Homo sapiens: one gene and its partner. The protein of the gene in region 2 interacts with the protein of the main gene of each other region in a pairwise test. Each region holds a gene or a part of one and is shown on either strand. Other genes may lie near its edges.

Region 1 (7,646 bases), on a different chromosome or scaffold from region 2:
TTTGTCACATGCATTGATTCATGTGGCCACCACCACAGTTAAGATACAGAATAGTTTCATCACAAGGTTCCTTTGCACTAACCTTTTACAGCTACACCCACCTGCCTCTCCCCCAATCTCACCTCTGACAACCACTAATCTGTTCTCCATCTCTATAATTTTGTCATTTTAAGAATGCAATATAAATGGAGTCATACAGTATGTAACCTTTTATGATTGGCTTTGTTCACTCAATAGAATTCTCTGGGGCCTCATCCAAGTGGCTGTGTATATCAGTAGTTGCTGAGTCCTATTCCATAATACAGCACTATGGTGTGTTTAGCCATTCATTGGTTGAAGGACATCTGAGCGGTTTCCAGATTTTAGCTATTGCAAATAAAGCTGCAATGAGCATTCATATACAGATTTTTGTGTGAACACTGTTTTCATTTCTCTGGGATAGATTCCCAAGAGTGCAATTGCTGGGTTGTATGGTAATCATATGTTTAGTCTTATAAGAAATGGCCAAATTCTTTTCTAGAATTGCCATACCATTTTACATTTCCACCAGCGTATGAGTGATCCCATTACTCTACATCCTCATCAGCATTTGGCGTTGCCACTATCTTTTCAGTTTTATTTTTAGCCATTCTGATAGGTAGTTAGTGATATCTTACTTGCATTGCTTAGTGGCTCATGATATTAAACATTTTTTCAAGAACTTATTTGTCATCTGTATATTCTCTTCAGAGAAATGTATTTTCCCATTTTCTAATTTGATGCTTTTTTAGCATTGAGTTTGAAGACCTCCTTATATACTCTATGAACCAGCACTTTGTCAAATATGTGCTTTACAAACATTTTCTCCCCATCTGCACTCTTCTCTTCACCTTCACCAGGTCTTTCACTGAGTGAGAGTTTTTCATTTTGATGAGGTTCAGTTTATCAATTTTCCCTTTTATGGATTGTGCCTGTGGGATTCGGCCTAAGAACTTTTCATCTAATCCTAGGTCCAGAATATTTTCTCCTTTTTTTTTCCTAAAATTTTTATAAGTTTACATTTAATATTTAAGTCCATGATTCATTTTGAGTTAATTTTTCAGGTGTGAAGTATCAGCTGGTTCATATTTTTTGCCTAGGAGTATTCCTAGTATATACCTAAGGAATGTAACCTTTAAAAATATACCTAGTATTTAGATATATTTTATGGATGATAATCATAATAACCATTCCAAAAGGTTGCTGTAAGAATTATAACCTTTAAAAATATCCTAGGTATATTAAACTAATATGATATTATATTGTATTTTTATGTTATATTAGTATAATATTATACTAATATACTAGGTATATTTTTAAAGGTTATAATTCTTATAGCAATGTTTTGGAATGGTTATTATGATTATCATCTATTTTACAGATGGAGAAACCCAGAAAGATTTGATAATGTGACCAAGGTTAAACAAATGCTAAGTGATAGAAAGAAGCCAGGGTTTAAATGCGGGTCTGACTGACTGACTCACTCCCACATTTAAACCCTGTTCCTATTGCCTCATTCAATCCCTTTCACTCTGGGAGTCCTGCTTCCTGAACAGATGTTCCACTTTCCTGCATACATTCCTTTATCCTGACCAACCTCAGTACACAAGCTACCAGAGGCTGGGGCCTGCCAGAACCTGTCCAGGGTTCTCCGTGACATGTTTGCAGGGTGGAGAACAGGGGCAGACTGGGAAACTTCCCTATATGCAAATAGCTTGTCATTCCGGTTTGGGGAAAGGCTCACATCAGATTTCAGCATCTTCTAAAGTATTGCAGAGCTCCTGTACCAGCTCACTTGTCTGGGAGGAGCAGGCTAAAAATCTTAGGTTCCCCAAAGACAATCACACATACACACAAAATTCATTTAATAACTCCAAATCCAGAACACTTCCATCTTCAATCTGCCCAAACAAAATGCACTGATAGAGGTTAGTTGGAAGGACTCAGAGCATTTTGGGGTAAAACTTCTATAGCTAGAACCTGTTCCTTGCCCCTTCTGGTGGGTGGGGGTCATAATTGGACTATAACCACTTCATTATCCATTCCCATTTGTAGGTAGATATGGGTAAAGGTAGAGTTTCCCTCCCAACCCCCCAGCTCTCTCCCCTCCACACACTGGCTGCTGACTTCCCAACCAGCCAGGACCTAGGGACTTCTGCACTCAGACCACTGGAAAGAAACCAGCAGCCTCTGAGTTGACTTTACTCTTTTGCAAATCCCTATACCTCACCCCACTTTTAATGAGAGATCCAGGAGTTCTTTGCCTCTGTGACCTTATACTCAGAAAGGGTCCCTCCACTTACAACTTCTCCCAGAGCTTATCCAAAGACTACTAGGCCTTTGCCCTAGCCCATGTTAGACAGCTGTAAGGAGCAGGACAAGCCCAGTCAAATGATCCAGTCCCTCTGGGTCAATGAATGTATCTATTTTGACTGACTCCTCAGAAGCCTCAGGGGTGCTTGAACCCACAGCAGAGAGTTTCAACAGGTGGGTCAGCAGTAATACGCCCTGACCCTGCAGTTCCTCCACCTCCACCCCTGTGAGAAATTCAGAGGTATTTTGTTCGGGATTCTGGCAACATGCCTTGAGCCCTGGGTGTCCCCTCTTCTAGGAATGATGCTTTCTTCAGTATTCCTGTGACAGTCTCTGCAGGCAGACAATGGCAGCTTCTGGTTACTTCCTCTCCCTGGAGAGCCACTTCAGGTATAAGTGGATCAAGGGGAACTGCTGAAATGACTCAGGCCATTCACCCTTGGTATTTCCTCCAGGAGCTGAGATAGGTCTCGCTGAATGTCAAAGATCGGGCCTCAGTCAAACTTCCGCAGAGCTGGGTGGCTGGTCACCTTCCCAGTCTCCATGTTCACCCTCCCAGTAGAAGGTATGAAACATCCTCTTGACCTCCTGGTCTCCCTGATGACAATGTCCTTTATCACCTTCCAAACTTCTCTGGCAGAGGCTTTAAACTTGGGCAGGCAGGGCTACTCCAGAGACAATGGGTTCTGTTATGCCCTGTCTTGCTCCAGCCAAAGCAAGCTGGGGGCCTCCCTCTGACATATGTTTGGGGGATACGTCCTGCTCCTGATGCAGTTTCCATCATCTCCACCCTCTTCCAGGGAGCATGACTCTCTCTCTTCCTTTTTTGTATTCATAAAAGGCTACTCCCTGATCCTCCCCTGGCCAACCATTTCCATAGAAACTAAGAGACTTGAGTTTGAATATCAACTACCACTTACTAGCTATGTGTCCATTGATTACTTATTGTCTTGAAGCCAGTTTCCTCATCTGTGAATAGAAGATGTTGACCTCATAACATTGTTGCAAGATAAACAGGATAATATATGTAAAGCAATGCAGTAACTGAAATAGTCACTGATCCTGGAACAAAGTGAGTGTTCAATTAGTAGTGGCTATCACTAGTTTCTATGACAACTGTCTCCAGGCCCAATCTTTGATCCTTAATCTGCTTGCCAGAATTCATCCTGGAAGTTGCAGGTAAGTTGTTACAGAGGGAGCAAGTTCTCCAGCTTCCACAGGGAGTCTCTGTTTGCCTATCATGCCTACACTGTTCCCTGGGAGTCTGGTGGGCTTGTGGCATGGACGAGGGGCTCTGCAGGTTTGGGCTGAAGGCAAGGCACTTCCTTGTCTGGTAGGTAGGCTCCTCAAACCTAACAGTGATCACTCTGAGGGCTCCTTGTGGACTTACTCAGCTGTAGGCAAATAGTGGCTGACTCTGCACTCCGTGGCCACAGTTCCTCCAGGTATGCCTGTCTCTGGGCAATGGCCCACTTGGTCAGTGCCCCTGGGGAGACCTGTCTGTTCAAGCACTTGTCATTTTCCCTGCTCTGAGGGTCTCCAAGGTGAGAGGGCAATCCCATGGACCCAGGACCCAGGGGAACCTCCAAGCTCAGCACTGGTCAGGCTCCAGCTAGAGCCTCCTCTCATCCCTGGCAACAAACTGCCCCTAGTAACTGCGCCAAGGAGGCCACCTCCCCCGTGGCCACCCCGAGGCTGGGGTCCATCCCTCTGAGGTTGGATAGAGCGCAGCCCAGGAAGGGAGTCCCCTGCAGACAGGAGCCCAGCCTCCCCCGCAACTCTGTCCCTGCTGACCCCTCCTTGGTAACCTATAGCACACCAAGGCTGGCTAACAAACAAACAAACAAAACCCCAACAAGAACAAAGGAAACATGAAACCAGTCAGACCAACAGATTCAGACCAGAAAATCCCCATTAAAATTGTTTGAGCCCCATACTTGCTGGATAGGGGCAGGGGTCCAGGCCTGAATCCTTCATAAACCATAAAACCTTGAATGCACTGAAGGAATGCATAAACCGATTTCACTTAGCGCTGGGCCTAAATAAACTGGATCCAACTTCTCAGGCTGGACTTCTTCCAGCTTCGGGACACCTTCTCCCAGCATCCCTCCCTAGGGGGAACTGGGGAAAATCAAAGGCTGAGACAGGGGAAATGCGAGGGCTTCGGAGGGACATACCCTCTTCCCCAGGCCCAGGTCGCTCCATCCCTGCTGGGGCCTCAGGGCTCATGTCTGGGATTTCCCCACCTTTGCGGGGCAGGAGCGGCTCCTCTTGGGCGGGGAAGGAGGCAGGGCCGGCTCGTCTCCCCATTCCCCTCTCCCGGACCCGAGGAGCAGGAAGCGGCGGCTCCTTCGGCCACCCAGGCAGCAGCCACAGCGGGGAGTGCGCGGCGCGGGGACAGGAAGAGAGGGGCAATGGCTGCCGACCCCACCGAGCTGCGGCTGGGCAGCCTCCCCGTCTTCACCCGCGACGACTTCGAGGGCGACTGGCGCCTAGTGGCCAGCGGCGGCTTCAGCCAGGTGTTCCAGGCGCGGCACAGGCGCTGGCGGACGGAGTACGCCATCAAGTGCGCCCCCTGCCTTCCACCCGACGCCGCCAGGTACTGCCAGCCTCGCCCTCCCCTTTCTCGGAGGAGAAACTGAGGCCCGGCAAGCTTTGGGCCCAGGGAGCTTGCGAGGAAGGAGTGGGCTGAGTTTGGGGCTGAGGACTGTCCCCCGCGGTATTTCTGAATTCCACCCAGTAGCCTGAGCCTCCCAGGCACACCCATACCTGTCTCCCTAACCAAAATAGAGTTGGCACATAATACCTGTTTGTAGACTCAACAGAGGTCAAAGGCAAGCGGGAACTACCTACCAAAGACGCCTTTATCCCATCTGACCTTCCGAACTTGTCCTGCCTGCTTCCATCCTTCTCTCCAGCGCCTTCTTCCCCCGGTGTCCTGTGGCAATAACTGCTCTTGACCGCTCTCTGCCATCCTCCTACCCACCCCAGCTCTCAGGGCAGGGCTGAGCATCCTGGGAGGCTGTGGCACTTTGCTCAGATCTGCAGGGAATCATGTTCTCTCTTCCCACGGTGGCGGGAGGGAGGAGGCCCCTCCCAATCAGTGCAGGCTGAGGAGGTCAGGGGATGGAGACTGCCCGGCCTGATGGCCTGTCCAGGCCCTTGGAGGGTCAAGTCTGGAGTTCTCTCATCTCTGTTTTTGTTTTTGTCCCTTGCTGTCATGCGCACTACAGCGACGCCTTGACATGCCCCTATTTTTCTCTTCCTACCTCTTTCCTACGTTTCCATTATTCTCTGTCTTCCCACTGATTTGGAATCCAGTCTCATTCCCACTGGAGTTGCATATACTAGCTGTGTGCTTGCACCTTGCAGCCATGAAGAAGACACTCGGGATGTTAAACCTGAGCATGATAACCATGTCCTCCTCCCAAGGCTCTGGGACATCAATTAGAGAGTCCGGGACGGGGGTCTCTCTGACTGGCATCTGGCTTGGATGCTATCTGTGGTTCTCTAGGATTACCATGCAAACTCTTAAGATACAGCCTCAGGTGCCACACACTCAGTTCCCAGGCCTTCCCCCACCTTATGAGGAGAGGAAAAATAAGATCGCCTAAGGCCCACTCACCTTCCTCCCTCAACATCTGCCTGTTGGTTTTGGAGGAGGGTCAGAGTATGCTAGGATTTGTCTAAATCATTTATAGCCTTTTGAATATAGAACGAAAGGAAACAGATGGCAGTGACATGATTACACTGTGAGACATTGATGCTAACTCCTGCCACTTTCCCTTCCCAAGTTCTGGGAATTCCCTGGGTGGAGGGGGTAAGATAATTAATGGTAATTAAGACTTAGTATGTATGGATTACTATACTAGGAGCTTTACGTGCATTACTTTACTAGATCCTCTTTCCAGCTATTCATTCATTCATCCACTTGACAAATGCTTACTGCTCTTCTACTATGTGTCAGGCACTGTTCTACACCCTGGGATTAACGATGAATGCAACAGATGTGTCCTTTCTCTCCGGGAGATTGCAGCCTAGGGGGAGGAAGACATTAACCAGATAACCCCACATGTAAATGTAAATGTGCTACTGTGAGAAGCTTAAGAAGGGGAGATTTGTGGCTCTAGGAGAGCTCATTAACAGAAAGTTTGACTGATATCAGAAAAGGCTTCCTTGAAGAAGTTACACTACAGCTGAAATGTGAAGAATGAGTATAAGTTAAGTAGGTGAGGAGGAGAAAGTTTTCCAAGAACAGACAACAGAGTGTGCAAAGAATCTGTGGCAAGAGGGGCATGGTAAGTACAAAGATGGGAAAAGGCCATGATGGCTGGAGTTGGGAGAGTAAAAGAGCAGTGGAAAACCACTGAGCATTTACAACCAGGTAGCGGTGGTGACCATGGGAGGGATTAATCAGAATTGCAGTATGGAGAATGCATTGGGAGGGGTAGAGTGGATTCTGGTTAAGTTAGGAGATTGTTATCTTCATTCTGATGAGAGACGGATAATAGGGGCTAGAGTGGAGTGTTGGTAGTGGAGATAGGAAAGGAATGGGTCAAGCCATATTTAGAAGGTAAAAATCCACCCGACTTGGTGCTGGATTAGTCATGGGGAGGATCACGATGAGGAAGAGGGGTATTAAAGCTAACTTGATGTCTGGCTTGCCCAAAGGAATGGAGGATCCACTAAAATGTCCACTCCATGAGAGTGTCTGTTTTGGTCACAGCTCTGTCTCCTGTGCCTGGCACAGAGTTGGTGTTCAATAAATATTTATTGAATGGCAGTGTTGACAATTAATGGAGAGACTATGAAAAGAGGCCTAGACTTGGAGAGGAAGATCATGAGTTCAGCTTTGTACCTGTTGAGTTTCAGATGCCTTTAAACAACCAAGAAGAGTTGTCATGGACATCAGAGTAAAGGTTGGTGCTAACAATATTAAAACTTGGGAGTCATTTGTTATAAGTGGTCATTAAAACTAGGGCATCAGGCTGGGCCTGGTGGCTCACGCTTGTAATCCCAGCACTTTGAGAGGCCAAGGCTGGTGGATCACCTGAGGTCAGGCAAGACCAGCCTGACCAATATGGTGAAACTCCATCTCTACTAAAAATACATAAATTAGCTGGGCGTGGTGGTGGGCACCTGTAGTCCCAGCTACTCAGGAGGTTGAGATAGGAGAATTGCTTGAACCCAGGAGGCAGAGGTTGCAGTGAGCCAAGATCATGCCATTGCACTCCAGCCTGGGCAACAAAAGTGAGACTTGGTCTCAAAAAAAAAAAAAAACAAAGCAAAAAAAAGGCATGGAGGAGATGCATTCA
Region 2 (7,019 bases):
CTTTTTTTTTTTTTTTTTTTTTGGAGACAGAGTCTCCCTCTGTCACCAGGCTGGAGTGCGGTGGCGCAATCTCAGCTTACTGCAACCTCTGCCTCCTGGGTTCAAGTGATTCTCCTGCCTCAGCCTCCTGAGTAGCTGGGATTACAGGGGTCCACCACCATGCCCAGCTAATTTTGTATTTTTAGTAGAGACAGGGTTTCACCATGTTGACTGGTCTCAAACTCCTGGCCTCAGGCAATCCGCCCACCTGCCTCGGCCTCCCAAAGTGCTGGGATTACAGGCGTGAGCCACCACGCCCGGCCAACTGTGCCTTTTTATCATCAGAGAAATTCCGTCAGTGGATATTGACTGCTAACAGGCTCTTCGTGTTTTCATTGAACTTTAAAAGCACCCTTTTCAGCTTTGGATTTTCATATGAACTTTATAAATAATCATCACATTACATTACATGGTATTGTTATAAACTCTCAAGTACTCCTACTGGTGTATATAGTTAGGCATTATTTCCACTCACAGGTGTCAAAATAAGGCATGTAGAAAGGAAAGCGGCCTACCCAAACTGCCCAAGGAGGAAGGGATTGGAAACTATGGGGCAACCTTCCAGGAAAGGGGAAGAGGATACCAATGGTCGTGGGCTTCTCAAAGCAAAGATTAGAGAGTCCTGCAGAAAGAGTAACTCTGCCTCCCACACAAGGAGCATCAAGAGCTTAAAGGAAAGAGTCTGGAACAAACCCTAGGTGCCCTTTATAAGCCAGGACTGTCTGGGAATCCAAACCCGAAAACCTACTTGTGGACCCAAAGGGTTCCAGCCTGAAACAGGAAAACATATACAAAAAAACCTGATCAATTACCTAAGCTGTCTCAGATGTTCTGTTCTTAAGGTCCAGCGACAGAGAAGGCTTAACGAGAAAAATGGAATCATATAAGGGTTTAGTGATTAGAGATGATACTTGTATTTATCCTGTAGAGAGTCCTAGAAACGGGATAGATGTTCCAGAGAAATATGTCAAACCCTTGGGTGGTGATATTTTTATTTTTGGCAACATATAATTTGTGTTGTGCTTTGACAAAAGGGCTGGGCTAGGCTAATGTGGCTTCTTTGTTTACAGACTGTGGATTGAACGTACACAAACAGTGTTCCAAGCACGTTCCCAATGACTGCCAACCTGATCTCAAGAGGATCAAGAAAGTGTACTGTTGTGACCTCACAACACTTGTGAAGGCTCACAACACTCAGAGACCCATGGTGGTAGACATATGCATTCGGGAAATTGAAGCAAGAGGTTTGGAAAATACTTCCTATTATAGTAGTATAGTGATTTTATTTTTATTGTTTGTTTTTACTGTTGTCAAGGAAACAGAGTTGCTCTACTACTCTTGTTGGGAAAATGACCTACGCATGTGTGCGCACACACACACTCTCTCTCTCTCACAGGTAGACTCAATCCAACCAGCTATATCAATTTCCATTGTATATATAAACCATGCATATATGCATTCAAAAAATGTTTACTGAACATTTATTATATGGTAGGCATTGAGGTAATAAAGGTCACCATTCTCACCTTCAAGAAATTCATACTTCAGCTGGGTGCAGTGGCTAACGCCTGTAATCCCAACACTTTTTGGAAGCTGAGGCCAGACAATCACCTGAGCCCAGGAGTTCAAGACCAGCATGGGCAACATAGTGAGACCCCATCCTACAAAATTCTTTTAAAAAATTAGCCAGGTGTGGTGGTGCACACCTGTAGTTCCAGCTACTCGAGAGGCTGAGGCATGGAAGAAATTCATACTTTAGAGTGGGCAATCAGGGGAGCAAATAAATAAACATTGTGGATGGCCGTGTTCAGGGTACCATGGAGTCACAAAGCAAAATGTTTTAATCCTATTTAAGGACGGTGAGAAGGGTTATGGCAGAGGTGAGGCTTGAATTGGAGCTTTGAAAAAAAAGGTGCTTCTGTTAAATAAGAAATTGTTGAGTAACACATACATCTCCTACCACATAAAAATGTGCTCCTAATATTCATCGTTTATTTCGAAGAGGAGAGTTCAAAGATTTAAAAGATCTATGCAATGAAAAATAAAGGAAACAAGGAAGATAGAAACATTCCAAAAAATGTTCTTTATGTTGTACATGAGTCACTTTTCCTTTATTTGTGCTTTCTTTGGCCACTGTTCAGTATCAAAATGTTCACTGAAGTTGCCGGATATAATTTGGGTGATTTGGCCATGTATAGAGCCTTTCTATAAGGCTTAAACCACTTTTGCCATGTATCATATTCTGTTATACTGGCTATCCATTATTGTGTCCTAATTGGCTTAATATATTTTATACATATATATTCATTGGTCAACTACCCCATTTTTCCAAAGCACAACTAAAGAGGATGTCATAGCTTATTATCCCAACCCTTTTAGAGAGAGGAAATTATTCCCTTTTCTATGGAGGGGGAAAACCATAGCTATCCTGTTCCCTGAGAACTTGCTAATTTAATCCCAGAGTGTAAGAAATGCCTTCTATCTTTTCACCACTGTGGCTGACAGAGCTTAATGAGTGCTTTGGGATCTGGTGAACATATTAATCCAGTGGCTAAACTGGGTAAGAGGAAAGGAGGGATTCCCTGCCTCTGGATGAGTGGTTGGGACAAGTGACCCTGGGCCCTGCAGTTTGGGGTCAGATTATCAGCCTCTCCAGAGCCTGCAGTCAGGGCTTTTCTGAAGAAGCTGGGGTCCTCCCATTGTGATCCTTACCAAAGACAACTGATAATTCAGGCATGATAACTACTGACATGTCTAACATTTAAGAATAGGGGGCACTGCACTAAGTTTGCCTAGTACAAGAGCGAGATAGAGTAGCACAAATTAGGAATTGATGCCAAAAGAGTCACAGCACAGGGATTAGAGCCCCAGACAGGTATTAGGGGCCTAAGCATGCAAGCAGAACCAGAGAATGCACCGGGAGAAATTTGTATGACACCCGCATTCCCAGCTGTGGGGCCACCACTACCAACACTTTTCCCTGTCTTCCATCCATAAAAAATCCTTATTGTTCTCCAAATGTTCTTTTATGTTCATTTGTCTCTGCGTGATGTGGCAGAGTGAAAAGATCAAGGATTTGAAGTTAAATTATCAGCCCTGTCTCTTACTGGCTGTAGTATGACCTTGGGCAAGTTGCTTACTACATTTGCATATCTGTTTCTTCATCTATAATATGAATGGAATCAACTGTACCTCATAAGGTGGTTGGTGAGGATTAAAGTGACTTGATACATAAATGGACCGAGTACAATGTCCAATCTACTGAACTCAATCTATGTTAATTTTGCCTTTTCTTGGAATGACCCACACCCATACCTCCACCTCCAAATCTGTCTAACTATATTATGTAGCCTGTACATCTCAGTGCTGTCACAGAGACCCTGAGTAACAGTGCCTTTGACAAGATAGAAATCTATTTCTTTGCCCAGTAATAGTCCAGGTACCCAGGAGCAGTCCAGGAATAGTCTGTTCCACCGTGGCAGGAACCCAGGCACTGCAGCTTGTTGCTCTGTCCTGCTTGAGTGCTATCCTGCGTGCACAATCACAGTTGGCCACCACCATCTCATCTGCATTTCACTTAACAGGAAGTGGAAAAGAGCATGCTCCATTCCTTCAAGGCCACAGAAGCTGTAAATGTCACTTCTGCTCTCACATGGGCCAGAGTTTAATGGCCACTGCAATGGATATTGTTCTAAAAATCAAAGGTTCCATTACAACAGAAGAATGGGAGAACAAATATTGGAAGGATAGCTGGCAACTTCTGCTACTCTGGCAAACTCTAACCATCCTTTATCATTTCCTTCAAAGATTAGCTTCTTAAAAAAGCATCTCGATGTAATACAGGGTGACGCTTTGCTCAGTGAAGCATGGGCTAAAGTCAGGAAAATTACCCCCATTTAATTATAATCCAAACCATACAACTTGGCATATTATATAAGGCATAGATTTTTTTTTTTAAAAGTGACGGGATACATGTGCAGAATGTGGAGGTTTGTTAAATAGGTATACATGTGCCATGGTGATTTGCTGCACCTATCAACCTGTCATCTAAGTCTTAGGCCCTGTATGCATTAGGTATTTGTCCTAATGCTCTCCTTCCCCTTGACCCCCACCCTCCAACAGGCCCCGGTGTGTGGTGGTCCCCTCCCTGTGTCCATGTGTTCTCACTGTTCAACTCCCACTTATGAGTGAGAACAAAAGCATGGATTTTTCTACGTTCCTTGAAAACCTGGATTTCTTTGAAAGTGACTCAGTGAATCTTATGGCTGAATGTTTGTGTCCCCTGCCCCACCAAATTTACATATTGAAGCCCTAATCTCCAGTGTGATTGTCTTTGGAGACGGAGGTCTCCAAAGAAATAATTAAGGCTAAATGAGGTCCTGAGGGAGGGACCCTAAACATTATGACTAATATCCTTATGAGAAGAGACACCAAAGAGCAAGCTCGCTCTCTCACTCTCCATGCACATATACCAAGGAAAGGACGTGTGAGAGAAGGTGGCCATCTATGAGCCAGAAAGAGAGCCTCACCAGAGGCCAGAACTTTGATTCATCCATCAACAGGCAGGGTTCATTGTTCACTGCTAGGGGCTCCCATAATCCACTGGGTCTGTGCCTCTGTGGCAGTGCATGTTCCAACTGGAATGAGATGTGCTCATATGCACCAACATCTTAGAACAGGATGACCCACAGGTTTCGTCTTGTGTGGCAACTCCAGTTGATCAGTAGTGGTCACCTGAACAATTGGAACTGAGATGAATTCTGAGGCTAAATAGGGCTCAGTGGGAAAAAGGGCTGAGATCAACTAAGAGTATCTGTCATGGTCACAGGAGGGATGAGGGGAAGTATTCGTGATTTACGCCACGTATTTGTTGTCTCTGATGCATACCTAATGAAGACCCTTATATATGGCAGATAATACATACTCCATAAATGTTTTCCAAATGAAAAAACAGGAGAATATGTGAGTTATCAAGAGTTTGGCAGAATATATGGCGGCAGCAGCAGAGGCTATTTGTTTGCTCATTTTTACTGTAGCTATAGTTTTGATAGCAGCTAGTTTGTGACATACAAAGTCTGAAACCCAGTCCTTTATCCCTGCTCATACTTTTGGGAACTGACTCGTTTTTAGGACATATCTTAACAAATCAATAAGCTCCAGGGACAGAAACCATGTCTTTTTTTCTTAGCCTAAATTTGCAGTGATCCAATTTCCAGAAGCAATAACCAAAACTTTATTTTCCTGCATCTGTTTGTATAATCAGTTGTCTAAAAGTATAACAAGTAACCGTTTTTAATTAAACAGTTAACATAGTCTTATTTACAAGTAAACATGAAAGGCTGTAATAGTCTAATTTTTTCCAATACAATCAGAGTAATACAGATTAGATACCCACATACATACATGTGTGTATCTAGTACAGTGCTACATACAATATAGCACATGGATTAAGATGATGCTAGGTACCCCATTTGCGCTGCTGTGATTATTACACATCTTATGCCTGTATCAAAATATCTCATATACCCCATAAATATATACACCTACTGTGTACCCACAAAAATTAATAAAGATGATGCTAGGAAGAAAGCCAGGTTGCTTCCTACGATGACGAAATTCATGTCCATCAAGCTCATGAACACAGGAAAGGAAGTAAGGGAACGGTCCATGGGAATCTTAAATATCAGTTCTCTTTGCAAAGCAGGGAAGGATGAAGACTGGATTTCCATTGAGATCTCCACTGCTACATGGGCAAATGAGAACAGACTTGCCTGGGAAATTGAGACAGACAAGTCCAAGTTCTGATGCAACAGTGTGTGATAAATAAAATCACTGTCTATGTTTGCTCATTTTCTGATAGCATGTAGTATAGACGTGAAATTAGTCTTTTTTTTTTTTTTAGATGTTTCAAGAAGCTAAAGTCAGTCTCTCTCTCTCTCTCTAACAGGATTAAAATCGGAAGGCCTTTACAGAGTCTCTGGGTTCACTGAACACATTGAAGATGTCAAAATGGCATTTGACAGAGGTAAGCTTGTACTTTCTTGAATGCCATCTGACATCCTAACACCCTTCTCGATTGGAAGTAGGTTTTAATCATAGTAGAAATGGGGTTTCAGAACTACTAAGAGTTGTTCTTCAAGAAACGGAGGAATAATGGCTTACAAATCTCATGTTTCTGCCTCACTGGGTGAAGTGTTACCTTCACAGCCATTGATAAGTGATCACTGTCAATGGGCAGACAATCCACATGGCATTGGAGTACCCATCTGCATCCCCTGTCTCAGAATCCCATTCTTCTCATTCTCTCAAAGCTCCAAAGAAGGGATCATAGGGATGGGAGGGCACCCCCAGCACTAATGTAGGGGAAGGCAGTGGACATGTAGGAGGGAACTGCTTTTGTTCTTTATAACTGTGGTGTATATTCTCTAGAACATACTATCTCTTAAGTCAGATATCATGGCCATCCTGGGGATCCTGTTAAAAATATGGGTCACTGGGACCCAACTTGAAGACTCATTCAGAAAGCTGGATAAGCCCAAGAATCTGTATTTTTAATAAGCAATCCAAATAATTCTGGTACAGCCAGTCAAGACATGGAAGCCCTACTGGATAGAGCCTACTGGATAGAGCCTCTACTTTGTAGTGTGGTATGTGAAATCAGTGAGGTAGCCCTCCCTCTCTCTTCAGACTTCTCTCCAGTTCCTCCTCCCTACTGTACTGCACACTCCAGCAATCCTGAAATACACCCTATTTGTTGCCATGAAGAAGTGCCTTGGCTCACATTGTCCTGTCTATCTGAAATGTATTCACCTCTCTGCCTGGCAAACACCTGTAATCAGGGGTCAGCTCAAGCCTTTCCTCCTTGAGGAAGCCTCGCTGACTACCCCAAGCTAACCTCAGAGCTCCACTTCCTTTTTCCACATCCCCCCACATTCTCCACACTTCTTCAGCATAGCAATCTTCCTATTTCCTTGTCATTG

What was found. Proteins that work in one complex are often made in the same cells at the same time.
Region 1: the proteins of CHN2 (region 2) and ANKK1 interact in binary tests that used the Homo sapiens proteins (3 or more experiments, as listed by UniProt).

The regions. Positions count from the first base shown.
Region 1 is NC_000011.10:113,383,140-113,390,785, forward strand, and holds the start of ANKK1 (ankyrin repeat and protein kinase domain-containing protein 1), read left to right. Parts: upstream 1-4,639; 5' UTR 4,640-4,745; coding exon 4,746-4,930; intron 4,931-4,936; exon of another isoform or gene 4,937-7,250; intron 7,251-7,646.
Region 2 is NC_000007.14:29,498,758-29,505,776, forward strand, and holds part of CHN2 (beta-chimaerin), read left to right. Parts: intron 1-1,109; coding exon 1,110-1,283; intron 1,284-5,986; coding exon 5,987-6,064; intron 6,065-7,019.